4 linked regions of the Homo sapiens genome follow. Each later gene encodes a partner of the first gene's protein in a complex. Each region holds a gene or a part of one and is shown in the gene's direction. Other genes may lie near its edges. The genes, in order: DPF1, SMARCD1, SMARCD3 and ARID1A.

Region 1 (7,872 bases):
CGCAGGGTGGGAGCTGAGACGTCGGGGGTCCCCAGTTCCATCCCCGCTGCCTCCCCTTTTTCCTCCCGGGATCCCGGGAACTGGAAGCCCCGAACCCGCCGTCAGTCTGGACCGCGGCATCCCTCCCTCTCCCCGCGCATACACATCAAACGGGAGCATCTCTGATCCCTTTGGGGACCGGCTGCCCAGGAGGGGGTGCCGGGAGCGCCCTCGGTCTCCGGGGATTCCCTCCCTTTCTCCCTGGCCGCGGTCCTCCGAGCGTTCGCCTCTTCCCGGGCCCGGTGGCTGGGAATCCGGAAGCCTGGGTCCGAGCCTGGCCCCTCCTGACCCTCTCCTCTCCTTGCCATCCCTCGCGCTCTCCACACCTCCCCTTCCCCCTCTCCATCTCGCTCTTGCTTCCTCTTCGGGATCCCGGACTCCACGTCCCAGCGCTCCCCACCCCCCGTTCCCAGGCGGTGACAGCGGGCTCCAAGTGACAGGCACTCGGCCGCTCCCGCCCTCCCTCCCCGCAGGCGAGCGAGGCGCTCCCCTCCCCCTCCTCCCGGGCCTGGTGGAGGAGGCGGAGGGCGAGCGCCCGCGGCGTCGCACAAAGGGGCCGGGGCGACCTCCCCCACCCTTCCCCCAACCCCGTGCGCTGGCTGCCTTGACCTTGAACATCGAGGGCTGGGGGCGGGGGTGGGGGGTGGGGGGAGAGAGGGAGAGAGGGAGCGCCCCCCTACCCCACCCACGAGAAGGGATGCGCCTGCTGGCTGGACCAGAGGCCGCCAGTTGCTTCTGGTTTCTGGCGGGAATGGGGGTGGGAGGTGGAGGGTGGGAGTTGGGAGAGGAAGGGGGGCAGGGACTTAGAGGCAAGCGCCTACACGTGTGGCTTCGCCGTGAGCAGGGTGCCGGGAGCGGGTGTGTGGGGCTCGGGTCCGTGTGAGGTGGTGTATGATGGTGACACCCCTCTGCTGCCCTCTCACCCTAAGTGGCACACACAGACAGCTGTCTCTCCTGTGAGGGGACATCCGCAAAATGGCTGGGAACGGGGCTCTTGTGCAGGTTGGTGGATCTACAGGCGATGGGGCCCCTCACCCTGACCCTGGCCCAGACCCCTGGGAGGAGGTGTGCTACAGCCGTGAGCAGGGGCCCAGCTACAGTAAGCCTGGACTGGGAGGGCCCTACCCCTCTGTGCCCTTCCCTTCCAAAAGGTCTCTGTGGGGGTGAAGGTGGGGACTCCCTGGCTCCTGAAAGAATGTGAGTCAAATCCCCTGGGGAGAAGGAGCTGCAGGGTGCCGCCCTCGGAAGTTCCGACTGCCTGAGTTCCAAAACCAGCTTGAGCCACGAATGTTCCCTGCCGTGAGCCTCAGTTTTGCCATCTGTGTATGGGGGCTTCTAACAGCCCTTACCACCCGATGGGACTGTCGTGGGGCTAAGGCCATCTTTGTAAAGCAGTTAGCACAGAGACTGACACTGACCAAATGTAGTGATTATTATTAGTAGTATCAATATTGATTTATGAAATTGATTTCTACTGTGGGCCAGCTCCCACACAGGGCATTGGGGGATGGGGCAGGAGGATTGTTTGGGCCAGGGAGAGGACTGGGAGTTCAAGTGTGTAGGAGAGTATGTGGGAGTGGTGTGTGCAGGTGGTTAGGGCAGAAGGAAAGAAAGGAGAGCCCGCTGCAAGTGTCAGCCTGCGTCTGTGGGTAGATATCCTGCTGGTGGGCCGGGCATGGTGGCTTATGCCTGTAATCTCAGCACTTTGGGAGGGCAGGGTGGGCAGATCACTTGAGCTTAGGAGTTTGAGACTAGCCTGGCCAACACAGGGACACCCTGTTTTTACAAAAATACAAAAATTAGCCGGGTGCGGTGGCACAGGCCTGTAGTCCCAGCTACTTGGGGGTTTGAGGTGGGAGGATCGCTTGAGCCTGGGAGGTGGAGGCTGCAGCGAGCTGTGTTCATGCCATGGCACTCCAGCCTGGGCCATCGAGTGAGACGCTGTCCAAAAAAAAAAAAGAGAAAAAGAGAAAGAGGAAAGAAAGAGAAGAAAAGAAAGAAAGAAAGAAAGGAAGGAAGGAAGGAAGGAAGGAAGGAAGGAAGGAAGGAAGAGAAATAAAAGAAGAAAAGAAAAGAAAGAAAAATAGAAATTCTGCTGGTAGAGGAGGACTGTTAGGAAGGTCTGCACTCAGTGTCTACACTCGGGCTTCTCTTAATCAAATCGACATGAGAGTTTGGGGTGGGGCAGGAGTGAGTCTGCGTGTCTGAGGCTAGCGGTGTGGGAATCAAGTGTAAGAGGGTGTGTTACGGGACCTGTGAGCTAATGGGAGGTGAGAGAGGAAGGTGGGGTCACAGCTCACCGTGGGTAAGGTGTGAGGTGGCCACTATAGGGCCCTGGAGGCCAGAGTGATCGTAGGGGTGTCAGTGCCCCTCACTTAATCCCCTTGTCACCACTCCAGGCCATATGTGAATCAGAGACCTACCTCCTGTTCCAGGAGAGGGGCCGGCCAAGACCTTACCTGGCTTAGATGGGCGAGTTTGTGGAAAGGGTCTAAGACTAGAGGAGTGTGTGTGTGTGTGTGTGTGTGTGTGTGTGTGTGTAGAAGTGACCGTGAGTGTAGGAGGCCTTGACTGGATCTCTCTCTTGGGGGGATTTCAAGTGACAAAAATGGTGAAGGCTAGCGGGCCACTTCTGTCGGCTGGGGCGCCCCCTGGTGGATGAGGGCGTTTGTGGGCGTGTTAATTACAGCAGCCGCCCAAATTTGAATGCTGGCTCTACAGGGGTCCGGGTGGAAGAGGGGAAGGGGAAAGGGGGAGAAGGGGTGGGAAGGGGAAAGGGGGAGGAGGGGTGAGACGGGAGGGGGGACGGGGTGGTGGTGTTGCAGAGAGACTGGGTCAGTTTGTGACTCAGTGGGTCTGCTCACTCCCTGGGGATCTCTTCGGGTGGAGTCAGTGTGGGTGACAGTGGGAGAGAGAAGGAGGTCAGGACTACTTGGGGAGGGCCGTCAGGGGTGCCTGCCTCCTTCCTTCAGTCTTACCTTCAAAGAGCCGCCAGGGCATGCGGGCATGTGAGGTTACCTTCCTGTGCCTCAGATTCCTCACCTGGAAAATGCAGATAATAAAAGCATCCCGGGGTGAACTGTGCCCAGCACATGATGGGTGCATTTACTCATTCAACAAATATCTACTGAGCATCTATTTTTTTTTTTTTTTTTGGAGACAGGGTCTTGCTCAGTTGTCCAGGCTGGAGTGTAGTGGTGTGATCATAGCTCACTGCAGCTTCGATCTCCTGGGTTCAACCAATCCTCCTGACTCAGCCTCCTGAGTAGCTGGGACCATAGGCATGTGCCACCATGCCCAGCTATTTATTTTTTTTTTAGTAGAGACCAGGTCTCGCTATGTTGCCCAGGCTGTTCTCCTGAGCTCAAGCGGTCCTCTCATCTCAGCCTCCCAGATTGCTGGGATTACAGGCATGAGTCACGGCGCCCTGCTTACTTAGTTTTTTGTTTGTTTGTTTGTTTGTTTGTTTGCTTTTAGAGACAGAGTCTCGCTCTGCCACCCAGGCTGGAGTGCAGTGGTGAGACCACAGCTCACTGCAGCCTCAGCCTCCCAGGTTCAAGCTATCCTCCCACTTTAGCCTTGCAAGTAGCTGGGACTACACTGCTGCGCCATCATGCCCAGCTAATTTTAATTTTTTTTTGTAGACACAGGGGTCTGGATATGTTGCCCAGGTTGGTCTCAAACTCCTGGGCTCAAGCAGTGCTCTCATCTAGGCCTCCCGAAGTACTGGGATTGCAGACTGGAGCCATCGCACCTGGCCGCATTATTCTTTCTTTCTTATTATTTATTTATTTATTTTTGAGAGGGAGTCTCACTCTTGTTGCCCAGGCTGGAGTGCAATGGCACGATCTCAGCTCACTGCAACCTCCACCTCCTGAGTTCAAGTGATTCTCCTGCCTCAGCCTCCTGAGTGGGGGAGTATAAGCATGCGCCACCATGCCCGGCTAATTTTGTATTTTTAGTAGAGACTACTACCATGTTGGCCAGGCTGGTCTCGAACTCCCATCCTCAGGTGATCCACCTGCCTGGGCCTCCCAAAGTGCCGGGATTACAGGTGTGAGCCACTGCGCCTGGCCTGCCAGTCACCTCTTAAAATGCTTTACCTATATTTACTCATTTAATCCTCACAACACTCCAGTGAGGCATCATCCTCTTTTTACAGATGAGGAAACTGAGGCCCAGAAAGGTTAAGTCATTTGCCAAGGTCACATGGCCACCAAGTGGCAGAGCTAGGATTTGAACCCTGGAGGTGTGACTACTGTTTCTAACCTGCACTGCTGCTGTCAGGCCTGCAGAAGGCGTTGAGCAGGGCGGGGTGACCGTGAGCGTGGCTGCTGGGAGAGACAGCCCCGGGTGGGGTCTCTGGAGCCAGGAGGGACTTGGGTGGGGGGCGGTGAGGGGGTGTCTGCTGGAAGCATGTTGGTGAGAAGTCTGTGTGGGCACCTGGGAGGTGTCTCTGCGTCTCTTAGTATTGCAGTGTGTGTGCGTGTGGCTGTGTGAGTCCGTGCGAAGGTGTGTGAGTAGGAGTGTGTGGGAGGCTGTGAGTATCCGCGTGAATGTGTGTGTAAACTGCCATGCGTGGGCGTGTGCGAGTCCAGGTGTGCATGTGGTTGTGTGCACGCGAGAGCAGGATATGTGGACGAGTGAGGGCGGGTGAGTGACGGTGCGTGCCCCGGGCCCCTCCTCCGCGCCGTCCCGTCCCCGCGGGGTCCCGGGGGCCCCCTGGCCTGGGACTACCACTCCCAGCATGGCCCGGGCGGGCCCGCCCCGTCGCCGCGATTGGCCGTGGCCCTCGTGCTCCCGCCCCCCGGGAATGAATGGATGGGCGGCCTCAGCGCCCGCCCGACCGCTGGGAGGACCGACCCGGCGGGGACCTGCTGGGGGCAGGACCCGGGGAGCAAGATGGCCACTGTCATCCCTGGCCCCCTGAGGTGGTGCGGGCCGGCGGGAGGCGGAGAGGAAGCGCGGGCGGGTCTACGCGGGCCTGTGTGTGTGTGGCGACCGGGGGTGGGGCCGAAGGGGTGTCTGGGGGGCTGTCACCGAGTGCGGGGCTGCGCGGGGGTGCGAGAGTGTGTGACTGTGGGTCTCTGACAAGAATGGTGTCGGATGCACCGCTCCCTGGCGGGGTGGAGGGCGTGGGGGGCCTCCAGATTCTTTTTGGGGAAGGGAGACATCATCCCTTCCCTGCAACCCTCGGGTCTGGGAGAGACTGAAATGACCCGGGGGTGCGGGGGCCTTGGCAACTGGAGTGAAGTCCACACTACCTTTGTCTTGGGATGTGGAGTGTGTGTGTGTATCACTTATTTGTGTTCTGGTTTTTTTAAGAATTTTTGGGGGATAGGTGTGTGGACATGTGTCTGTTTCCTTTTATTCTGCACTAGATATCTTTGGATATTTGGGTCTCCCAGTGTGTGTCCGTGTCCTTTGGAACTATATGTCATTTGTCTTGTGTTCTGTGTTTTTGGGTATGTAGGGCTGCGTGTATTTGTGTGTAAATTTTTGTGTGACTATGGGTGGATTTGGCTGTTTCTGTGTTTTATATGTGTGTGTGTCTGTGTGGATGTGTGATATTTTAGATACTGGTTGCGCATCGTGCATCTTTGTAAATGTGTGTGTGTACCTGTGTGAATCTGTGTGATTTCTTTGTGTTGTGTGTCTGGATATTGTGTGTGTGGTTTGTGTTGTGTCTTTGGATACATGGGTAAGTGCCTAGGGGCGCAAGTGGTTTCTGTAGTTCCTGTCTTTTGACATGCTTGTGTCTTTGGATGCATGAGGGGGTGTATGTGTGTGTGGTGTGATGTTTCCATGTTGTGTGTCTTTGTGTGGGTGATGTGTTTCTGGTGTGTGTCTGTGGATATGTGATGTGTCTTTGTGCATGGTTATTTGTGTGATTTGTCTCCACACTATGGAACTTGGGATATTTGTCTTTTTCAGTAGATATTTATGTGTGCACGTGTGTGAGGTTTGTCTGTTTCTCCTTTGTGAGTATTGGGATTTGTCTCTCTTTGTGTGTGAATCCCGTGTGACTGTGTGTGATTTGTGTTGTGTGTCTGCATGTGTTCAGGTAGGGATACGTCCCGGTGTGTTTTTGTTTGTTTCTGTATCGTGTTTCTACTCATGAGCTGGGGGCCTGTTTGAGTCCCAGTTTGGGGGCCCCTGGGCCCTGTCCCCTTCCCCCAGCCTGGGTCCCGGAGTGGGAGGAGGGGAGAGGTGAGGCTGGAGGGGTCGGCCCACCCCTCCCGAGCCTGGGCGGCCCGGCAGCCGGGGAAGGGGTGCTGGGCGACCCTGTGCGCCTGCCCTTGCTGACAGCCGCCCGCCCGTTCGCCGCCCCTCTAGCCTAGGCGAGGACTTCTACCGCGAGGCCATCGAGCACTGCCGCAGTTACAACGCGCGCCTGTGCGCCGAGCGCAGCCTGCGACTGCCCTTCCTCGACTCGCAGACCGGCGTGGCCCAGAACAACTGCTACATCTGGATGGAGAAGACCCACCGCGGGCCGGGTACCGCCGGGAGGGCTGGCGCAGGGCGGGGCGGGGCCAGGCCGCCCCACCGCCGCCGCCCTCTCACCCCCCTCTCTCTCCAGGTTTGGCCCCGGGACAGATTTACACGTACCCCGCCCGCTGTTGGAGGAAGAAACGGAGACTCAACATCCTGGAGGACCCCAGACTCAGGCCCTGCGAGTACAAGATCGGTGGGTGCAGCCGCTGGGGCCCCCATCGGTGTCCCAGCGCCTGCTGTGTGTCCTAGCACTCGTCCATCACCTTTATCGCCTTCTAGCAAGTGTCTGCCTGGCTGGCTGTGTGTCTGTCTGCCCATGTGCGTCCCGGGTGTTTCCCAGAGATTCCACAGTTTCTCTGAGTCACTGAGTGGCGACTGCATCTCCTCCTACATGGGCCCAGGTGCCCAGTTGTTGTTATTTATTTATTTATTTATTTATTTATTTATTTTTGAGACAGAGTTTCACCCAGGCTGGCGTGCAATGGCGTGATCCCCCAACCTCCACCTAGCGGGGAGTTGAACCTTGAACCCGCAACTTCCGCCTAGCAGGTTCAAGCGATTCTGCCTCAGCCTTCCGAGTAGCTGGGATTACAGGCATGCGCCACCATGCCCGGCTGATTTTGTATTTTTAGTAGAAACGGGGTTTCACCATGTTGGTCAGGCTGGTCTGGAACTCCTGACCTCAGGTGATCTGGCCACCTCGGCCTCCCAAAGTGCTGGGATTACAGGTGTGAGCCACCGCGCCTGGCCTGTTGTTTTTTAAATAGAGGCAGGGTGTTACTATGTTGCCCAGTCTGGTCTTGAACTCCTGAGCTCAAGGGATCCTCCTGTCTCAGCCCTCCAAAGTGCAGGGATTATAGGCGTGAACCACCATGCCCCACCAAGGGTCCCAGTGGTATTGGAGGGCATAGTGATATCTGTTAGGTGTGTGTGGGTGTATGGAGTTGCTGACTGTGTCCCTTCCCCTGGGAACTGGGATGGATCAGTCTGCCTGTATTTTTTTTTTTTTTGAGATGGAGTCTGGCTCTGTCACCCAGGCTGGAGTACAGTGGCGCAATCTCAGCTCACTGCAACCTCCGCCTAGTGGGTTCAAGCGATTCTCCTGTCTCAGCCTCCTGAGTAGCTGGGATTACAGATGCACACTGACATGCCCGGCTAATTTTTTTGTATTTTTAGTAGAGACAGGGTTTCACCATGTTGGCCAGGCTGGTCTCGAACTCCTGACCTCAGGTGATCCACCTGCCTTGGCCTCCCAGAGTGCTGGGATTACAGGCTTGAGTCACCATGCCCGGCCATCTGCCTGTATTTTTTTCTGTGGGTGCCTGAGGGTGTCTGCCT
Region 2 (7,020 bases), on another chromosome or scaffold:
GCTACTATGATTGGTTTAATACCTGCAGATGCCTACTTTGCCTATCTCTCTTAAGAGATATTCAGAAGATATTTTTTGAGTTTTTTTCCATTGTTGTTGGGGTTCCTTTTTCATAGGATTTTGTCTTGGGAAGTTTCTTCTGGCCTTTCCTAATGTGATTTTTATTTTCTCTCCTCTAGTCAGCCTTGTCCAAATATGATGCCACTAAACAAAAGAGGAAGTTCTCTTCCTTTTTTAAGTCCTTGGTGATTGAACTGGACAAAGACCTGTATGGGCCAGACAACCATCTGGTAGAAGTGAGTAGCTCTGCCTTCTAGGCTTTGACTCTGATTGGAGGATGATGGACTTGGGAGCCGTATTTTAATGTCTAAGGAGATGGGGAGGTATAAAGTAGTCACTCTAGGTGTACACAGTACCGCTCCAGGTGTACAGTTTGCACATTGACCTCTAGGTGGCACTAGCATGTTTAGTTAGGACCAAGGGCTCTTGTAACCTAACTTGTCCCATCTTTTTAATGTTACTATCCTGGTCACTGCCACCTCTTTCAAGGGAAAGTCTACTGGTGGCCTCTTGTATGTGCCAGGCCATCTCTGTATCTTGCTTGTTAATAATGGTGAGATGTAGTTATCCATTTTTCCTGGCAGCAGTTGCTGTAATTAGAGTGATTGACTGATAGGGTACTAGTACTTGCCAAGGTTACCATTATAGATCTGGGACTTCCTCTTGGTCTCTGCTCTGTTTACATTTACATTCCAATTCACCAAAAATCCTTTATTATGATGCCTGATTGCACAACGTTTTGAAGCCCATGTTAGCAACAGTATTCTTTGGGAAACAGGCAAAACCAGAATGACAGTCCAGCCAGCACTCCAAGTGAACCTAACCTGCTCCTTTCTTTGCCAGTGTAGCTGCAGCCCCTTAACCTCAACCACTAAGAGACATGGGGAGGTCTTTACCATCTAATAAGGGAAGTAAGTCATAGAATCAATAGAAACTTGTAAATATATTTAATTTTATAGCAGTAGAGTATAGTGGCTAAGAATGTGGACTGTAGAATCAGACACATCAGAGCTCAAATGGTGGCTCCGCCACTTACTGGCTGTTTGACCTAGGCAAGTTACTTTATTATGCTGAGCATTAGTTTTCTCATCTGTAAAATAAGTATAATTGTGCCTATCTTGTATAGATGTTCGGGAAGTGAGATAATCCAGGTAAATGTCTTAGAATACTGTCACACATAGTAAGTACTCAGTAAATGATAGCTATGTTACTGTTCACATGTGTATTATCCATTTTGTGGATAAAATTATCACTGGACATTGAGGCTTATTTAAATCAACCACAAACAATTAAAAGGTTAATCTACTTATACACAGACAGTAATCCCAAAGCCATATGCAGTTTTTTAAAATGCCTCATGCTATTACTCTTCTCCAGTAGCCTCAGTAATCAAAGTTGAATATTCAGTCATTACAGAAGCTCTTCCCTCCCACCCCAGCTCTTCCTCTGGGAGAGCACCCCCTGACATCTTCCTCTCTGTAGTGGCACAGGACCGCCACTACCCAGGAGACCGATGGCTTTCAGGTGAAGCGGCCGGGAGACGTGAATGTACGGTGTACTGTCCTACTGATGCTGGATTACCAGGTATTCTGTGGTGGTGTGAGGGGGTCCAGCTTTCACAGCCACATACCGTCAGCAGTCTCACTTTAAAGAGTTTATGTCTAGTTGTGAATAATTTGCCACTTTGGCACAGAGATAGAGTCTTAGTCATCTCTGAGTTCTTCCTAGAATTTTTCTGTCCCAGAAAAAGCACTACATTATTTGTTGAATAGCTTGAATGTATTGCTGCATATAGACGCAGCTAACTAGCTTCATCCCCTATACTTTGGTTCCCTGCAGCCTCCCCAGTTTAAATTAGACCCCCGCCTAGCTCGACTCCTGGGCATCCATACCCAGACTCGTCCAGTGATCATCCAAGCACTGTGGCAATATATTAAGACACATAAGCTCCAGGACCCTCACGAGCGGGAGTTTGTCATCTGTGACAAGTACCTGCAGCAGGTAAGTAATGGACCCATTCTTTTGCTAGAATCCATTAGAACACTAGTTATGCTCAAACTGCTAACCTCGTGCTTCTCCCCTTTGCTACAGATCTTTGAGTCTCAACGTATGAAGTTTTCAGAGATCCCTCAGCGGCTCCATGCCTTGCTTATGCCACCAGAACCTATCATCATTAATCATGTCATCAGGTAGGCCTGTGTGTGGGAGGCAGTGCTGTGCCGGAGCTGCCTTGTGCCGATTTGCACAAGCCAGTTGTCAAATTTTCAGGAATTTTGCAAACAGGTTGTTAAACACAACTGTTACACTGTTACTTACAATTAAATTACATAAACTTATAATTAAATATATTAGACTAAAAGTGGGTAACATATATTCAAAATGTATAACTTCCTAATTATTACATTTTATTGTATTTGTGCTTTTTTTTTTTTTTTTTTTTGGAGACAGAGTCTCACTCTGTTGCCCAGGCTGGAGTCCAGTGGCGCGATCTCGGCTCACTGCAAGCTCCGCCTCCTGGGTTCACGCCATTCTCCTGCCTCAGCCTCCCGAGTAGCCGGGACTACAGGCACCCGTCACCACACCTGGCTAATTTTTTGTATTTTTAGTAGAGATGGGGTTTCACCATGTTAGCCAGGATGGTCTCAATCTGACCTCGTGATCTGCCCGCCGAGCCTCGTGATCTGCCCGCCTCGGCCTCCCAAAGTGCTCGGATTACAGGCATGAGCCACCGCGCCCAGCCTGTATTTGTGCTCTTGAGGTTATTTTTGCCTGTTGTATCCATCTGGCGGAAATATGATATAATGATGTGCTTATGTGTTACTGTGCATCTCTTCCCATGAACAGTAATGTAATGTTGGTAGCTTGAAATCAGAATTTTTTTTTTTTTTTTTGGGATGGAGTTTCACTCTTGTTATGCAGGCTGGAGTGCAATGGCACAATGTTGGCTCACCGTAACCTCTGCCTACTGGGTTCAAGTGATTCTCCTGCCGTAGCCTCCCACATAGCTGGGATTACAGGCATGTGCCACCATGCCTGGCTAATTTTGTATTTTTAGTAGAGACAAGGTTTCTCCATGTTGGTCAGGCTGGTCTTGAACTCCCGACCTCAGGTGATCCACCCGCCTTGGCTTCCCAAAGTGCTGGGACTACAGGCGTGAGCCACCGCGCCCGGCCTTTTGTTTTGTTTTGTTTTGAGATGTAGTTTTGCTCTTGTTGCCCAGGCTGGTGTGCAATGGCATGATCTCAGCTCACTGAAACCTCCGCCACCTGAGTTCAAGCAATTCTCCCTCCCCAGCCTCCCACGTCGCTGGGATTACAGGCACCTGCTACCATGCCCAGCTAATTTTTTTATATTTTTAGTAGAGACGGGGCTTCACCATGTTTGCCAGGCTGATCTCAAACTCCTGACCTCAGGTGATCCGCCCACCTGGCCTCCCAAAGTGCTGGGATTACAGGTGTGAGCCACTGCGCCCGGCTGAAATCAGAATATTTAAAGCCCAAAGATCAGCAAATGCCACACATCTGGGCACTTCCTCCCACTCTCCTTTGGAAGATCAGTTGTTAAACATCTACCAGCTCTTCACTCATGGAAGGGCTCAGCAGCCATCTTTTCTCTGGATGGTACAGCATTCTAGTCCGAGCCTCCCAATTCCATTACCTCTGTTCACTTTTTTGTTTAGAAGCTGGAGAGCAAGGCATCTCTAGATAGGGGGTGAAGAAAATTTCCTTCTCAAAGCAGCGTGTCTCTGTAGTTGGATATAGTCTCTTTGTCTTCCTTCCTTTATTCCATATTAATTCTGGTAAGGGCTTTCTTTTCTTTTCTTTTCTTTCTTTCTTTTTTTTTTTTTTTTTTTTTTGAGACAGACAGAATCTCACTCTGTTGCACAATCTCGGCTCACTGCAACCTCTGCCTCCTGGGTTCAAGCGATTCTCCTGCCTCAGCCTCCCAAGTAGTTGGGATTACAGGCGCATGCCACCACGCCCAGCTAATTTTTTGTATTTTAGTAGAGACGGGGTTTTACCATGTTGGCCAGGATGGTCTCGATCTCTTGGTCACGTGATCCACCCGCCTCGGCCTCCCAAAGTGCTGGGATTACAGGTGTGAGCCACCACACCCGGTGGGCTTTTTTTTTTTTTTTCTTTTGACCCTGAACCTACAAGATGACAGAGAGGGAGGGGAAAAAAAGAAAAAAGATAAGACCCTGAACCTTCACTTACACAGTAGTAACTCCTCAACCTATAAATTAGGTCAGTAGAAGTTGGTCTGTCCTATATTCCTATGCTTAAAGTTAGACCACTTTTAATTTTGTGTTTGACTTTATTTTTGGGGTCAATTTTAGTTTAAAAGGGAGAAAGCCAGGCACGGTGGCACATTCCTGTAGACCCAGCTACTCCAGAGGCTGAGGTGGGTAGATCACTTGAGTCCTGGAGTTCGAGTCCAGCCTGGGCAACAGAGTAAAATCCTGTCTCTGAAACAATAAAAAAAGATTTGTTTGGCTGGGCGCAGTGGCTCACGTCTGTAATCCCAGCACTTTGGGAGGCCAAGGTGGGTGGATCACAAGGTCAGGAGTTCAAGACCAGTCTGGCTAATATGGTGAAACCCCATCTCTACTAAAAATACAAAAATTAGCTGGGCATGGTGGTGGGCGCCTGTAGTCCCAGCTACTTGGGAGGCTGAGGCAGGAGAATCACTTGAACCGGGGAGGCAGAGGTTGCAGTGAGCCAAGACTGCGCCACTGCACTCCAGCATAGACAACAGAGCAAGACTCCATCTAAAAAAAAAAAGAAAGGCTTCGTTTGTTTAAACATACAGAGTCTTGCTCTGTCATCCAGGCTGGAGTGCAGTGGCATGATCTTCGCTCTCTGCAACCGCTGCCTCCCAGGTTCAAGCAATTCTCGTGCCTCAGCCTCCCAAGTAGTTGTAATTACAGGCGTGCACCACTTTTTGTATTGAGGTTTCGCCATGTTGGCCACACTAGCGTTGAATTCCTGGCCTTGAGTGATCTGCCCGTGTTGGCTTCCCAGAATGCTGGGATTACAGGTGTGAGCCACCGCACCTGGCCAAAAAAGTTTTAAAAATTATTATTATTATTTCTTTTTTGAGACAGAGTCTCTCTCTGTTGCCCAGGCTGGAGTGCAGTGGTGTAATCATGGCTCACTGCATCCTCGACCTCCTGGGCTCAAGTGATCCTCCCACCTCGCCTCCTGAGCAGCTGGGACCACAGATGTGTGCCACCACGCCCAGGAATTGTTTTGAAATTTTTTGTAGAAACTGGGGTCTGTGTGGTGTAGGCTGGTCTCAAACTCGTGGGCTCAAGCAGTCCTCTTACCTGAGCCTCCCAAAGTGTTAGGATTACAGGCATGAGCCACCATGGCTCGCCGAATTTTTTTTATTTTTAGAGATCGTCTCACTCTGTCACCCAGGCTGAAGTATAGTGGCATGAACTTGGCTCACTATATCCTCTGCCTCCCGGGTTCAAGAGATTCTCCTGCCTCAGCTTCCCCAGTAGCTGGGATTACAGGCGTGAGCTACCACGTCCGGCTAGTTTTTAGTAGAAATGGGGTTTCACCATGTTCCTGACCTCAGGTGATCGCCCACCTTGGCCTCCCAAAGTGCTGGGATTACAGGCATAAGCCACCACGCCTGGCTGCCAAATATTTTTTTTAAAGGGAGAAAGATATATAGGAGACTGTAGCAGTGATTTCCTCTGGAGAGAAAGGAACTACTTTTCACAGGATACCTTTTGTACTGCTTGAATTTTTACCATTGACTTTTTAAATAAATCAACTTTATTGAAGTATAATTTATATATAACAAATTATACCAATTGAAAGTGTAGTTTGAAGATTTTTGCCAGATCTGTACACCATGTAGCTGCCACAATAAAGTGTAGAACATTTCTGTCACACCCGAAAGTTCTCGGGCCCTTTTACAGTTAGCCCCTTTTCTCTTCATCCTGGGTCATCTTTTTGACCCTGTGTAATTAGGTCTTAGGGGACAAGCTCTTTACCAGGCTCCTTTGGTTTCCTGTCCAGTGTTGACCCGAATGATCAGAAAAAGACAGCTTGTTATGACATTGATGTTGAAGTGGATGACACCTTGAAGACCCAGATGAATTCTTTTCTGCTGTCCACTGCCAGCCAACAGGAGATTGCTACTCTAGACAACAAGGTAGGGGTCTGTGCCCTGGATAGTTGGGTACCACCAGCCCCTATCACAGCTTCAAGGCCTCCTTTTGATTCTTAGTGTTCATTCAAAATACGGTGACACCCAGTATATGTCAGGTACTGTGCTTGGTGCTGGTTTGAGCCAGACTCAAATGAATTCTGATTGTGGGGATACTCTCAACAGCACTGAGCCTCGGTTTCTGATTTGTGGAATAGAGACCATAGTACCTTTTTTTTCCTTTTTTCTTTTCAGGAGTCTCGCTCTCTCGCCCAGGCTGGAGTGCAGTGGTGCAATCCCGCCTCACGGCAACCTCCACTTCCTGGGTTCAAGCGATTCTCCTGCCTCAGCCTCCCAAGTAGCTGGGATTACAGTCACCCACCATCACACCCGGCTGATTTTTGTATTTTTAGTAGAGACGAGGTTTCACCATGTTGGCCAGGCTGGTCTCCAACTCCTGACCTCAAGTGATCTGCCCGCCTCAGCCTCCCAAAGTACTGGGATTACAGGCGTGAGCCACCACGCCCAGCCCATAGTACCTATTTTAATCAGGTTGCTATGACGATTAAATGAGGGAGTGTGTGTAAAGACTTGAGACTGTATCTGGCACATAAAAACAACAAATGGTAACTTCTGCTACTATTATTGTTATCTGGGTTGTTATTACTAGACGCAGTCCTTGCAAATAAAGCCAAAAGTGCTTTGGGAACATGAAGGAGAAAGGGAGGCTTTGCTGGAAGAGTTGATGCCCCAACTAAATCTTTTCTTTTTTTTTTTTGAGATGGAGTCTTGCTC
Region 3 (7,110 bases), on another chromosome or scaffold:
AGCAGCATGGGGGCAGCCAGGAGGAGGAGGAGGAAGGTGCCTGATGCCCCTGGCCTGGCTTCGGAGCGTCCCCTCTGCTGACCGTCACCAGAGGCGGGGGTTGAGGTAGTCTCCCCTCCTCCCTCTCTGGAGCTGGGCGTGACCCCAAGGACTAGCCAGAGGTCCCCCGAGGCTGGTGCTTAGCCCGGGCAGGTAGGCTGGATGGCGGAAAGTGGGGCCTGGTTTAGAGATGGCCAGAACACCGAAACCAAGGCTTTGTGGTCCTCACAGCGCCAAGTGGTCTCACTTTCTCCCTCTCTCTTTCTTTCTCTCTCTCCCTCTCCTCTCGCGTTCTCTCGCTCTCTCTCTCTCTCACACACACACACACACACACTCACTCAGGCCGCCCCAGTGAGGGTGATCGTATTCTCCTAAGGAGAGCTTTATTGCTGGGGGTGTAGGGAAAAGGGAATAGAGGAAAGAGCTCTCTCCCAAGCAATCCGTTCTCCCTCCAGTCTCGCTTCCTTTGTTCCTCCCTTCCCTTCCTCCCTATCCCCTCGCCAGCTTCTCTTCTCTCCTTCCAGCCCCTTCTTCCATGTTCCCCGCTCTCCTGCTCCTCCTGCCGCGCCCCCCGAGCGGAGTCCCCGTGGTGGGACCTTCACGGAGGGCAGGAGGGCGGGACTGCGGCTGGGGCCCGGCCTAGGTGGCCATCTTCCCGCAGGGAAGGAGTTAAGTCTCTTCCCCGCATCCCTCCTCCCTCCGCCGCCTCCCCGGCCGCCGCGGAGTCCTGCAGCTGGGCCCCGGGCTGACCTTCACCGGGAGGGAGGCCGCGGCGCGCATGCCCAGGCCGGGGACCGGCGCGGGCGGAGGGAGGGGCGGCGCGGGCCGGGCCGGCCCGAGCCCCCCCAGCTCCCCGGCCGCCGCCCGCTCGCTCGGGCGCGGTGGGGGCGAGGCGGCCGAGCCCGTCCCGCAGGCCGCGGCGCATCTCTCCCTGCGCGGGGAGCGGCGCTTTGCCATTTGGTGCTGGTGGTGCTTCAGCGAGGGAAGGAGCGATGGGGGGACGGCAGGGGGGACTGCGGCGCCGGGCGCCGGGCGGCCGCCCTCGCCCCCGACAGGCGCACGGCCTGCCCCAAGTGCGGCGGGCGCCCTATTGCGCTGGGAGGAATCCACGCTCTTCCCGGGCCTCCTTCCCACCCGCAGGAGCCATCGGCGGCGTGGCACACCGAGCGCCCTTCTGGGGTTAAGCCACTGGGGATCCTGGCCTTTGTGAGGAGGGAGCCCTGGCCCGGGCCCCCACACTGGCGCCGCCCCAGCTTTCTGGTCTGAAGGCTCCTCCTGTCGCCCACCTAAAAGCAGTACGCAAATGTGTCTGGGCCTGCCTTGTGAATGGGGCCCACCACGGGATGTGGAGGTGCTCAAGGTGTGCCTGTGTGTGCAGAGCCATGTGGCTTCCTCGACCTTTTGGTGCTTGTATTGGTGTGCCTGCTGTGTGTGTGTTGGGAGGGTGTGTGTGCAAGGTGTATCTATTGTCTGTGTACACTTAAGGATGTCTCCCAGAGGGGTGGCTCAGGAGAGCGCTTATGTATGGACTTGGGTGAAGCTCACCAGCTCCTCCACAGGGGCTTCACCATAGCCCCTCGTCTAACTACCTCCCGCAACCTCTTCCACCACCAAGACCAAGCCCGGGATCTCCCAGGCCCTGCCTCAAACTTCCCAGCTACCCAAACTGGAGTGCCCAGCATCTCCTCTGCTGTCTTCTTTTCCCAAAAGGTCTCTCCAATAGTTGAGAACACTGAGCTTTAACAAAGCCTAGGGGTGTCTATCTCCAACCCCCAGAACCTCCAAGGCCTGTGGTTTCCCATGCCCCTGCTAGACGCACCCATGGTGGGTGGGGGTGCCCATGGTAACTCACACCATCAGGTAAATGGCAGAGTACCAGCTCCATGCATTGGCTCATTAAGCTTTGCAAGCATCAGGTATCTGGGGTACTGTTGAGTTCCTGTGCCCAGGCATGGAGGAAGAGTGGGAGTTAAAGATCAGTCTCTGACCTTATGGGGACCTTAGCCTCTCTGGGAAAGCAAAGCTAATGTCCTTGAAGCACAGTGCACGTCAGGCCAGTCCAATGCCAATTCATGGTGCTGGGTAGATGGCAATGAGCATTTGGAGAAGAGAAAAATCTTTGCATACAAGTAGGACGAAGGAAGGCTTCCTGGAGGAAGTGGGGCCTGGGCTGGGCTTTAAAGAATAGGTGTGATTTGGACAAGCAGAGGGAAGGCAGAGGGCAGGCAAAGGGCATTCCAGGTAAAAGAATCGGGGGCAGGGGCTAAGAAATGGGAGTGAGCGGGGATTCTGGAGGTTAGCAGGCAGACTGGGCAAGTCACTTCCCCAGGTTCCCAGCAGCATGACCTATGGCAGACAGAGGCAGGCCACCCACCCATCCCCACCGTGTCAGGGCCCAGGCTCTGTGTGTGGGGGTGTGTGGGGGGTAGTCTAGGCTAAAGCCCTGGGAGAGATTTGGTAGCAAGGGGATCTCTAGGTCCCCTTTCAAGCTAGGGGTGGTGGAGGAGCAACCTGGACCAGATGTCCTCCCTGACATTTCAGATTGACAGTGGGCACCTAAATGAACAGTGACAGCCAAGAGCACAACCAGGGCCAGCAGAAATCAGGCTGCAGGCAGAAAGGACCCCCTGGGCAAAGGCATTCTGAAGGGTTTAGGGTCAGTACCCTTCAGTCTTCAGGGCCCAACTTCAAGTAAGTGTTTCAACAAACTCCCCTAGGCACTAGGCTATGGTCCTGCCCTCACCTGGATTCTCACAGTGAGGCCCCAGCAGACCCCCAAACTTGACCCAAGGGCCTTGTTCCAAAGCCCACGGCTCCTCCCCAAGAAGGAGAAAAAAGGGGCGTGGCCTTTGGGGACCTGGGTAGGCCCAGGACTCCCTGCCTGGGTATGTCAGGATTTGCCCCTCCTCCTTCCGGTCCCTCCTCCACTCCAGGGACTGCCAACTCCTTCCACACGCCCCTTCTGGGGCTCCCTTGCCACCCCACGCCACACCCCAGCCTCAAGACCCCTCTCTTTGGGGTCTTGAGGCCGGCCCAATATACCCACTATACCCAGCCCAGCTGCCCCAACTCCTCTGGGTCCCCTAACCCCACTCCACCCCCACCCCAAGGAAACCAAGCCCAGCTTGCCTCGTTCTCTCCACGCACCCACCCGAGCACCCCCCTGGCGCTGCGCCATTCCCCACATTCATTCTCTTCCTGTTCTCATGAGCACAATCCCTGTCCCTCTTTCTGAAATACTTCCCCTATTGCCCTCACTTTCTCACAGAGCGGCAAACAAAGACTCACATACCCAGAAATAGCCTCTCACAGAGCTGAAAGGCACAGGCCATGTCCTGCCACACACGCAGGCGCGCGCGCACGGAGGCTGTCGTGGAGGGAGGCACACATACAGGGCGTCTGTCTGCACGCACATAAGCTGCCACGCCACAAAAGGGCGCGGACACACACGGCGTGTGAGACAAGGGCACACACAGCAGTGGACGCAGGGCCACGCCGCCGCCCGGGCACACCCACCGCCGCCGGCCCCGGGCAGGCGCGAGGCCTCGCGGGCCGGGCTCCCCCGGTTCCTGCCAGCGAATGTTTCCCTGCTCGGCCTGCCAGGTCTCTGGGGAAAGGGCCTCAGAAATGCAGCAGGAGCCGCTGGGGGAAAAGTTGGAACTGACTGTTCCCTGCCTGGCGCGGCCGGCGAATTCCCTGACGGAGAAACTATTTGTGGCGAGAGCCGGTGGCCGGCGACCCCCCGCCGCCTCCCCTGGCGTCCCCTCCCCGCGCCGCCTCCCGCGGGCCTCGGCGGCTTCGGGCTGCAGCACTGCTGCCCAGCGCCCGCGGCCGGGCTGGTCGGCGCGCCTCGCCGCTTATCTGCGCTGTTTGGACAGCGGGCTTGGAAAGGCAGGCGGCCCCGTCCCCGCCGAGTCAACAGGCAGACCCCGGGCCGCCGGACTATTTCTGTCTTATCAGTGCAGGAATGCGGCAGCCGCGGCGGCGGCGGCGGCGGCGGGCGGGCGGCGGCGGCGTGGGCCGTGGGCCGTCAGGGCAGCCCTGAAGGGGCCCCCTCCCCACTCCGCTCGAGTAGAAGTGTGAGAGAGCCCAGCAGGACTCAGAGGGGAGAGTTGGAGGAAAAAAAAAGGCAGAAAAGGGAAAGAAAGAGGAAGAGAGAGAGAGAGTGAGAGGAGCCGCTGAGCCCACCCCGATGGCCGCGGACGAAGTTGCCGGAGGGGCGCGCAAAGCCACGAAAAGCAAACTTTTTGAGTTTCTGGTCCATGGGGTGGTGAGTGGGGGAAAGTTAGCGGGGGAGGGCAAGCGAGCTGGCTCGGGCTGAATGGAGGGCTGATCGGGAGGGGCCGGGAGGGCGCTCCCGCTCTCCCACCCCTCTAGTGGGGGGCGTCATGGCCCACGGCCCGGCCGCGGGACTGTGCTGGCGCCCTGGCACCCGAACACGTCGCCAGGCGGCCGGCCGGGTCTGACGCGAGGCGGGGAAGGGAGGCGTTTGCATGGCTCTTGTCAGGGGCGGGGGTGGGACTTGGGGACTCTACCCCCCAAGTAGGGGGTCCTCGCTGTAGCCGACAGGTTGACTTTCGTTCTTTTCCTTGTGGGCCCAGGTGTTGCCCCTGCCCTGGGGGTGGGGGTGGGGGATGGGGACATGGCAGAGGCTGGGCTGGGCTGTCTGTTCATCCGTTGGGACAGTGTCACTGCTTGTGTCTCCGGAGCAAGGAGCAGGTGACCCTGGAGGCACTGTAGCGGGAAGCTCGCAGGCTGAGCCACCTCTGCATCCCAGCGGGAGGGCTCTGGAGCTTCTGCCTTAGGGTGGGGGAGAGGACCGCTCTAGGGACTTAGCCCAAGTTAGGGGCTCTGAGGGTCTCCTTGGCGGACTCAGCCACCAGAAGCTGATGTCCTTAACTCCTCGAACATGTGAAGGAAGGGGCTGGAGTTGGGGACATGAGGCCTAGAGACCGAAGGGACAGGGGAGCACTGTCCTGCCACAGGCAGGCTGTGAAGGCACGTGGGAGCCCGGGAGGCTGGAGCTGAGTCAGTAGGGCCCGGCTGGGAGGGGTATGGAGGGGTGGGGAATGGGAGAAGCAGGGGCTGCGACTCTTGGGATGGGTGAGGGAGTGGAGGCCCTGTGTAGAGGAAGCTGTCGGGTTTACTATGGCCAAATTTGGTTGTGACCCCAAGGAAGACACCCTCTCAGTAAGGCCAGAGTCCCTAGGATTTTGGCCTTTCATGGGGATGGGGCTGGTGGCGGGCACAGCTCTCTGGGGGCTCTGAAAGCCTCCCTCTCAGGGCCTCTTCAGCAGATGGGCCAGTATCCCTGGCCTTGATAACTGGGGAGAGCAGCTGACAGGAAGAGGGGGACTCCCTGGAGTGGCCTGTCCTCCAGCCCCAGGGACCCCTGGGGGTAACTTCCCAAGGTGTCCATGTCAGCTAGCTGAGTTACCAGTCCTAACCTGGCTGCTGGTGGGAGCCCCTTTAAAAAGGCCCATCTAGTGGGGAGAGGCTGTACACGTGGACTGTTTTTTTAATCTGGTCAACTTACAGCTTCAGTTCTTGAGTGGCTGTGAGCCCCAGTGCCCCACCTAGCTGGTGGCCAGGCCTGGGCTCCATTCTGGGCTGCTACCCTGGAGGCCTGAGTGACAGGGTCAGGTGGGGTGAGGGAAGCAGACACATGGACAGGCAGGTTTCACTGCAGGAGAGATAGGCAGAGACAGCTGCTGACCGAGGGTGGGAGGACATTAGGGTTAGACACAGAGCCTGGAGGACCAGGAGGGAGAGGTAGCAGTTGGAAGGAAAACAGCAAGCCCAAGGGGGCCCCTCCTCATGCCTGGGGGTGAGGTGGGTGGTGTGTCCATGTTAACAGTGCCAGGGTCTGCATCCCCTGCCCTCTGATCTTCTTCCTGCTTTCGTGGTCCCAGTCCCCATCCCACCCCGCTCTTTCTGTTTCACAGCCCCTGAAACTCTCTCTGGCCCTCCCCATCTCCCTTCTGGAGTCTGGACAAGTGGGGTTTGGAACACTTCGCTCGATGCATTTGCATCTCATTTACACCCCATCTGACCACCCAGGGGTAGTGGCAAGGGAGGAGGAGCCGCCTCCTCTCAGTCTCCACAGCCCCCATGAACCCTGACTGCTGACCTCACTGGGGTGGGGATGGGAAGAGGAGGAGGTGGCTGCTGACCTGGGCAGACAGGAAGGGAAATGTGAGTGCAAGTGTCACTGCCCTGACCCACCCCAGGCCCCCCTGGGCAGCCCACCTCTAACGCAGTTCCCCTCCTCCCAATCAGAGAATCCTGGCTGTGTCTGGGGCGCCCCAGCAGGCTGCCCTTGCCTGCCCTGCCTCCAGCCCTCACCCTGGGAGCAAATTATGGGGGCAGCTTGGTCAGCGAAGACCCTGGATGTGGGGACTTGGAGTCAGCCGAGGGGAGTGGGGTTTGGGACCCAAGGGTCAAAAGCAGGGACACAGGGAGCAGAGTGGCTGAGATGAGCTAGTGAGTACCAGGCAGAACCGCCCAAGAAGTGGAGCCTGAGAAGGAGGAGCAGGAGGAGGAGCAGAAGTCGGAGCAGGGAGCCGGGTACCGGACCTCAACCAAGCCGCAGAGAGCAAAGCCCTGGGCCCCCAGGAGGCAGCCCTTCAGGGGCTGCCTGGGCCAGGATGAGCTGTGTGACCTTGGCGAGGTCATTTTTCTCCTTGAGCCACAGTGGCCCCATCCGTCAAGTGGGGATGAAAGGACCTGCTCAGGCTGTCTTGCAGAGGAGCATGTGGATGTGAACATCTTTGAAAGGTTGAAAGGCGCCATTAATATTCATTTTTGCGGTACCTTCCGCAGCCCCGAGGCTCGCAATGCCCTGTGCGGTGCCTGGCTTCAGTTAGCTTCCTGCAGCCAGACGCCAAGCCCCTCCGCCAGAGCCGCGCAGATTCCGGCGCCCCTGCCCCTCCTACCCATCGCTCCCACCCATCGCTCAACGCTCAGGGTCACCAGCCGAGGGTCTGGTGGGGGAGGGGAGACGCCGGCTCACCGCGCCTGGAGCGGGGGGCCCTGGTCTGACCCACGGGCGCCCGTTTCTGCTTCACCCCC
Region 4 (7,020 bases), on another chromosome or scaffold:
GTGTCTTTCATGATCTTGAGGGACTTTCTCCTAAAGGCTTGGTTTGGTGAAATTGTTTTTTTCCTGGAATAACAAAAAGTCTAGTTTTCTGTTTTGTCATCAGTCATTTTAGAGCTTTGAAATAGAGACTGGCCAGTTTATTCCTTTGCATTTTAATGTATGTTCCACTTTTTTTCTTGTCTTCCAAGATATGAAGATACGACCTAGAATGACACTTAAGATTTGCTTAGAAATTGCAACTTCTGAGTACCTTGTTACACTATTCTATCTTGTTTTATTTTGTTGCTTTTCTTCCATCTTCATCATGCTCTGTCAGCAGTGCTTTTGGTCAGGGATATTGAGTATTCTGTGGAGTCATACATGTTTTCAAAGAGGGGGAAGCTCCATTCATCCCCTCCCAAACCCCTTGCGCTTTTGTGCTAGGAGGAAATTTTGTTCACTTACTAGCTGTATTCCCAGCCCATCCTAGAGCTACTTTACTACTCTTTTGAGCTGGGGATTTTGAAATTAGCTGTGTTAGATGGTGGGCTTGGAGCTCTGTGCCTTGATTCTACATCTTCCATGATGTTCTGCATCTGGACAAGAAATAGGGAAATGTTACATTGTTTTTCTAGTGTCTGGAGGAAAAGTTTTGTCTTAAAAGACAGCATCCTCTTGTCTCTGGGTCATCCTATAGTCTGAACCTCTTTCCTCTCATTCCCCTTGTTTTGTTTGGTTTTGGCTGAAAATTTTACTTTTCTTGAAAACTATTAGAATAAGTCATTTGGGGTAGTAAGTCAGGGTTCATTTAAAAGCAAAATTGATTGGAATTCTGCTGGTTTGGAAATATTTAGTCAAAGGTTTTAAAGAAAAAGCCAACTCTTTTGGTATAATGATTTTTGTTTTTCAGTCAGTAAATTATGGAACACTTTCTGTGTAGATGATAGGAGAATAGATACAGTCCCTGTTTGGATGCCTGTCTGTGCTGCCTTTGGATGAATTTTCTGATCTCTTTTATTATCACTAGACCCACACAACATAGATTCCTAATTAATTTCAGCTCAGTTGTCTACTCCCCAGAGACCCAGGGAATGGGCTGGTGAGCATTCAGTTGTGTAAGAGACAGTGCAGCTTCCACTTCTGTGGACTGCTTCAGGTGTGTGGTAGTAGTCTAGGTGAGGGTTGTAGGTTCAGACTTTGTTCTGAATTTCTCTTTGCTACTTGATAAACCTCTTTTCAGACCATGATGCTCTACTCTTCAACATTCTTAAATTAAAAAGTCTTGCTCTGTCTCCATCTTTTCCTGGCGCAGTCTTAGATTAAGAATATTTTGCAGAGACTTAATTAACACAGCTAAGGTGATAACGTTTTCATTTGACTCTGCGCTTATGAAATAAAGTTTAGGTAAGTGTGTGTATTGTGGCTATGTCTTTTTCACAGGACCTGGGAAGATCTTAGACAAACTTTTACTTTATTCCTTTTCATAAGTAGTGTATCTCAAGTGTTGAATCCCGGTACTGATGAAATAGTTTTAGATTACTTACACACATGAAGTTGATTTAAGGCTTTTTATTGGGACGCTTTTTAGCAATAATACTTTGAGAGTAATACCAGTTTACCAAGGTAAAAAATAAAATACAATAAATAGTCCAGGAACAAGTTGGATTTTATTGTAGAAGTTTGGTTGTTAGTTTCTACTACGGAAACATCAAATGATATTTCTGACTCCTGGGAAACAGATACAGGAATCCTAGATTTATTATGGGAATGCCTACTGGCAGAAATTCTAGGCTGGCTGAAATACAGGACTCTTGGAGCTCTCTCAAGTAGGAGGGACCAGGAAAACCACACTGAGATGGCACTTTAGTTGTGGGGGTTTCATGTTTCTCTACTGTTCATGAGAGAGCTGGGGTGATGAGGATTGAGATGGTGGTGTGAGAACAGAGAAAGCAGCCAGGACCAGGTTTGGCTTCTTGTGTATTGGGCCCTGTGAGGACTTTTTAGGTTCCTTTCTTTGTGTGTGACATGAGTAACCATGACAAGCAGCACCTGCTGAAACAGGATGTCTTGGATTGCATTAAACATTAATATGTTGGATTGACTCCTGTAGGTGTAATGTCTACAGTAGACCTTTTGCAAAGAGGTTAGTGAACTTTTTTAGAATGAGGGAATAGGCTAACAAAGTAATAGGCAGGGCTCTTTCCTGTTCCCATCCCTCAAAAGGTTGTATTGATTGGCTTCAACTCTCAAAATTCTAGAAGCAACTGAAGCTTGTAAATATGGTAAAAATGTGGTATTCAAATATATTGGCACCGAGTAGTTCTTTTCTGCCAGTGAGCTGTAATACCTGGGGCTTGAATGGAGTCCTGATTCCTGTGGCTTTTATCTCTGGGTTTTTCCTTGTTTAGATTGGTCATTATCATTACTGACGCACACTTACGTTGTTATTACTGATGCATACTTGAGTTGTGTGTTGCGTTAGTGGTAAAGAGCACAGGACTCACAACAGGAGGAGGAAGGAGGAGGCTTAGGTTCCACATACAGCTCCAGATTAAGCTGTGTGACCCTGGGCAGGTCATTTGCTTTCTCTATTTTTCATTTTCTCCCTCATCAATAAAATGAAGTTGGTCTGCATGGCCTTCTCACTCTAAGATGCTACATATCTGTGCTTCCATAGCTGGCTTGTTATGAAGGCAGCTTTCTGTACATAAATCAGGGGTCTTGAGACCATCTTTCTTCCCCTGGACTGAAGGAACTCAAAGCTATTTTCTCCTGGGATTCACAGGAACAAGCTCTGAACAGTTGGGTGCCATTGTGGTCTGTAGACTTTTACAGAAAAAGCTCTACCAGACTGTTGCCTTGAAACTGTTAATCTGTTTGTCATTAGTCATTCCACCTGGCTGGTGGTTTTAAAACACTAAATAGTCGTTGGAAAGTTAGGTAGATTTCATTAAAGCAAGACTTGAAAAATAGTTGCTTCAGGATCCCCAGGAGGCTTTTGCACTTGGGGTTGGGGTGAGGAATGGATATTCATAAGTTCAGTGTTGATATTCTGCTGCTTTTGGGGAGGGGTAGGGAGAGAGAGGGAGCATTAAGCTCTCCAGACTCCTGGTGTTTGGGCAGGTCTAGGTCTGGTTTGGGCAGTTGGTTGTAATCTGAGTGCCTGGACTTGCCCTGTAAGTTTTGCTGAGAGAGAAGCAAATGTTCCTGAGACTGGAAGAGGAAAAGCTGCGTTTCAGGGTCAATTTCATAGGTGCATTTGTTGTTTCTCATCGCTATGGTTTAAAAAACTACATGGTGTGCTTTGCACGTGGTCCTGGAAATGCTATTCTTTCTCTTCTCCAGCACACCTGAATTTCCATTCTTTCTCTTCCTGGCTTAGTAGTTTAGAAGTGTAATTTAGGTATATTAGAGGAAGGAAGCTTCCCTTTATAAAGGAGGGAAAAGGGTAGAGGGAACAGTGTTTGATAATTCTGTGCTTGACACAGCATCTTCTATCGTCTCTGAAGGAACCAAATGTTTCAGAGCTTTGTGTAAATACTTGCTGAGCTGTCAATATGTACCCAGGAGGTTTCTGTAGTAAGATGTAAACTGTTCTATAGAATGTTTGACAGGCAAATTAATAAACAGTTTTCAAGCAAAGATAATGCTAGCCTCCTCATGTGGTGGAGTAAAATAACATTGGGGAAAAAGACTTGGGGATAGGAAAAGGGTAGTGCTGGGGGGCAGTGAGTGTGGAGATAAGAAGTGATCTAAAAAAAAATTGAAATGGAAAGATGCTGCCCTGGTAGTGAAACCTCTGTGGCCCTGGCTGCGTGCTAAGTTCAGGGCATGTGGTATCCTGTTAAAGTCAATTGCAGTTTCATAGTGAAAATAGAAGTTTGGAAAGAAGATCCTGACTGTCAATAGTAAGGTAAGTATTACCCCAGACACTTGGCTTATGAGACTTTGAGGTTTAAAGGGTAGCTTGGTGAGATTATTTTTGGCTTGGGTTTGCATTTCTGGAATATTAGAAAGGAGAAAAAAGATACTGCAACTTGAGTGTGATCTTTATCCTCAATTTTGCTGTTGTGCTGGGGATTATAAGTCCACTACCCAATGGCCTGGGTTTATTTATACAGTTTTTACTGGACTTCTGTGTATCACTTATGATAAAATTAATATGCCTTTACACTCTGTTCCTGGGTCAGTACAAAGTCCAAATATTTGGGGACTCACTACATCTTACTTGAAGGATTATGTGAGTAGATACAGTCTTTGTTTTTGAAATTGCCATTTTAGGATTAAAAACATATCTGGGTTCCTTCAGTGACACATTCTTTTTATGGAAGAAGAAGAAGAATCTATGAATATTTTAGCTGTCTGTCTGTGGTCCTCTTCTTTGGTAGCCTTGTGAGATGACCAGATTTGCCTTCTCAGAATGTCTTTTTTAACTAGATTCATTGATTCTGACACCAGTTTTCTTTATAAGAAGTGTTTTTTACACCAGAGTCCTGGAAGTGCCCTTTTGACTTAGCTGTTTATATAGTAGCAGGGAATATGAATGTAATTATGGTCCTGACTATGATTTTTAGGTTCAGCTAACTTACTACCAAAGGCTATCAGCTTGTTTTAATACAAAACACAAAAACTTGGATTGGCACTGACATAGGTTGCTTAATATTGCATGGTCCTTTCCCAGTATGTTGGTAGTGAGGGTATTAGGAACTTCAGACTTATTGCTGAGAGCATAGTTTCTAAGTCAGAGAGATCAGGAAATTCCAATGGGGATGGGAAATAGCCCTATGTGATTACACCAGCTAGGTACTAGGAAGAGATTTAAAAGGTAGAAACAATATCTCCTTCAGAGGCATTTAGTTTTCTTAGGAAAGCATGCTTATGTGCACACATCTGGAAAACTTGAAAAGCAAGGTTTCATAAATGGATGTAGACCACACTAATTATGTGAGCTGAAGGAATTAGAGGAAAAGGTTCAATCAGTTTGGCAGGGTTAACCTGGGACAGCTTTTCAGAGGCTTTTTTTGTGAAGCTAAATGTTCAAGAAACTTAGAATACTAATTTGCCTTTTCATAATGCTATTCTTAAGTTCCATGGGCTTGATAGAATCCACATTGCACATCCATCTCCAGACCAGTAGCTGTCTCAGTGTTCCAATGACTTTGAGAATTTGGACTCTAACCATAAAACTCCCTGAAAGAGTGGTTCCAGGGTCTTAGTGGTTCTTGTGGTCAGGTAGAGCCTTTGGTACAGACTGTTAAGTTCTTGGCTAGTTCAGGGGCACTTTTCTAGTAAATTTGGATTTGGAAGGTCATGTCACCTTCAGAGTTGTGTGCCCTGGACAGCTCTGTAGTAATGGTGGTTCAACTTTGTTGGTGAGTCTGTCTTGGCAGAGTTAGTTGACCTTTCTTAAAACAAGAGCCACGAAGTAAGTATCTGTTGGGACTCTTAGGCTGCTATTTCTGAGGAGCTGGGAGCTGTGTTCAAGTCAAGTTGCTTGTGTTAGACCTTATATTGAGGTTGATGGGTTAGGTAAGCCTGCACATATGCAGTCTGCCCATTTATTCATAGAAATGGCCTTTAATACTGTTTTTGGCCGGGCGCGGTAGCTCACACCTATAATCCCAGCACTTTGGGAGGCCAAGGTGGGAGGATTGCCCAAGCCCAGGACCAGCCTTGGGACCAGGCTATTAACATAGGGAGACCCCATCTTTACAAGACACAAAAATTGCTGGATGTGGTGGTACGTGCCTGTAGTCGCAGTTTACTTAGAAAGCTGAGGCAGGAGGATTGCTTGAGCCCAGGAGGTTGAGGCTGTTGTAAGCCATGATTACGCCAGTGCACTCCAGCCTGGGCAATGGAGCCAAGACCTTGTCTCAAAAAAAAAAAAAAAATTTGTTTTTTATTAGGTTACTATGGCCAAGCAGCTAACAAATGCTGCTCACCAATGCTTAATCCTTGTGGAGCCTCTGGAATATAGTGATTTTGGTTTCTTTACCTGCTGGTCGATCTGTGGTTGGGCCTTGGCACTTCACCGGTCAAGGATCATCAGTGGATGCTTAACAGCTGAAGATGCATGGCATGTCCAGTGCCAGGCCACTGTAATGCTTCTACCTGGAGAAGGATTGGTTACACTGCTCCAGTACAGAAGTACTGCAGACCTTTTTTTTTTTTTGAGATGGAGTCTTACTTTGTCACCCAGACTGGAGTACAGTGGTGCAATCTGGCTCATTGCAACCTCTGCCTCCCAGGTTCAAGCGATTCTCATGCCTCAGCCTCCTGAGTAGCTGGGATTATAGGCTTCCACCACCATGCCCGGCTAATTTTTGTATTTTTAGTAGAGGTGGGGTTTCATCATGTTGGCCAGGCTGGTCTTGAACTCCCAACCTCGGGTGTGATCCACCCACCTTGGCCTTCCAAAGTGCTGGAATTACAGGTGTGAGCCACCACGCCCAGCCTTTTTTTTTTTTCCCCCCCCCTCAAGTAATGGTCCATGACCTGCTGAAAGTACTGGAGTCTTGGATAAACATTCTGGTTTAGAAATACCTTTTCCACTTTTTTTGCCTTGCCATTTTGGCATTTTGCAAAAGTGGGTTTTCAGTTACTCAGAATTGGGCACCATAGTTAACCTCCTATGGATTACAGGTGTTTAGGGGCTTGAACTCTGATCATTCCCAGGTTTTAGAGGAATCCAAGTTCGGGTGAATATTGACTTAGTAGCCTTGAGTATTCTTCCTGAAATTACCCCTCCTCTCCATTTAAATGGATGAAATTAGTTTTTTACTGAATGTGAAGGGACATCTGAATGAACTTCTGTTTGTTTTTGTTAGTCACTTGTGCATAGCTGGAATATTATCTTGGGACAGGTTGAGTCTATTTCCCAGTGGCTTCTGCATTTTCTAAGGGTGGACTGGAATGGGAAGAAGTCTAATGCCAAGAATGCATTCCAACATGCTGCAGAGTAGGAAATTTGATCCCTAAAATGTTGACTTAGTGTTGGTCATGGTACATATTAGAAATCACCCAGTAATCCAGGACAGATTT

Evidence for each region.
Region 2: DPF1 (region 1) and SMARCD1 share a complex: the UniProt entries of both Homo sapiens proteins name them as parts of the neuron-specific chromatin remodeling complex.
Region 3: DPF1 (region 1) and SMARCD3 share a complex: the UniProt entries of both Homo sapiens proteins name them as parts of the neuron-specific chromatin remodeling complex.
Region 4: DPF1 (region 1) and ARID1A share a complex: the UniProt entries of both Homo sapiens proteins name them as parts of the neuron-specific chromatin remodeling complex.

The regions. Positions count from the first base shown.
Region 1 is NC_000019.10:38,221,212-38,229,083, reverse strand, and holds the start of DPF1 (zinc finger protein neuro-d4), read left to right. Parts: upstream 1-4,861; 5' UTR 4,862-4,941; coding exon 4,942-4,970; intron 4,971-5,178; exon of another isoform or gene 5,179-5,328; intron 5,329-6,375; coding exon 6,376-6,536; intron 6,537-6,619; coding exon 6,620-6,727; intron 6,728-7,872. UniProt on the Homo sapiens protein: May have an important role in developing neurons by participating in regulation of cell survival, possibly as a neurospecific transcription factor. Belongs to the neuron-specific chromatin remodeling complex (nBAF complex).
Region 2 is NC_000012.12:50,088,342-50,095,361, forward strand, and holds part of SMARCD1 (SWI/SNF-related matrix-associated actin-dependent regulator of chromatin subfamily D member 1), read left to right. Parts: intron 1-179; coding exon 180-296; intron 297-1,498; coding exon of another isoform or gene 1,499-1,525; exon of another isoform or gene 1,526-1,542; coding exon 1,543-1,644; intron 1,645-1,899; coding exon 1,900-2,061; intron 2,062-2,151; coding exon 2,152-2,249; intron 2,250-6,095; coding exon 6,096-6,231; intron 6,232-7,020. UniProt on the Homo sapiens protein: Involved in transcriptional activation and repression of select genes by chromatin remodeling (alteration of DNA-nucleosome topology).
Region 3 is NC_000007.14:151,245,684-151,252,793, reverse strand, and holds the start of SMARCD3 (SWI/SNF-related matrix-associated actin-dependent regulator of chromatin subfamily D member 3), read left to right. Parts: upstream 1-4,099; 5' UTR 4,100-4,231; coding exon 4,232-4,309; intron 4,310-7,110. UniProt on the Homo sapiens protein: Involved in transcriptional activation and repression of select genes by chromatin remodeling (alteration of DNA-nucleosome topology).
Region 4 is NC_000001.11:26,699,006-26,706,025, forward strand, and holds part of ARID1A (AT-rich interactive domain-containing protein 1A), read left to right. Parts: intron 1-7,020. UniProt on the Homo sapiens protein: Involved in transcriptional activation and repression of select genes by chromatin remodeling (alteration of DNA-nucleosome topology).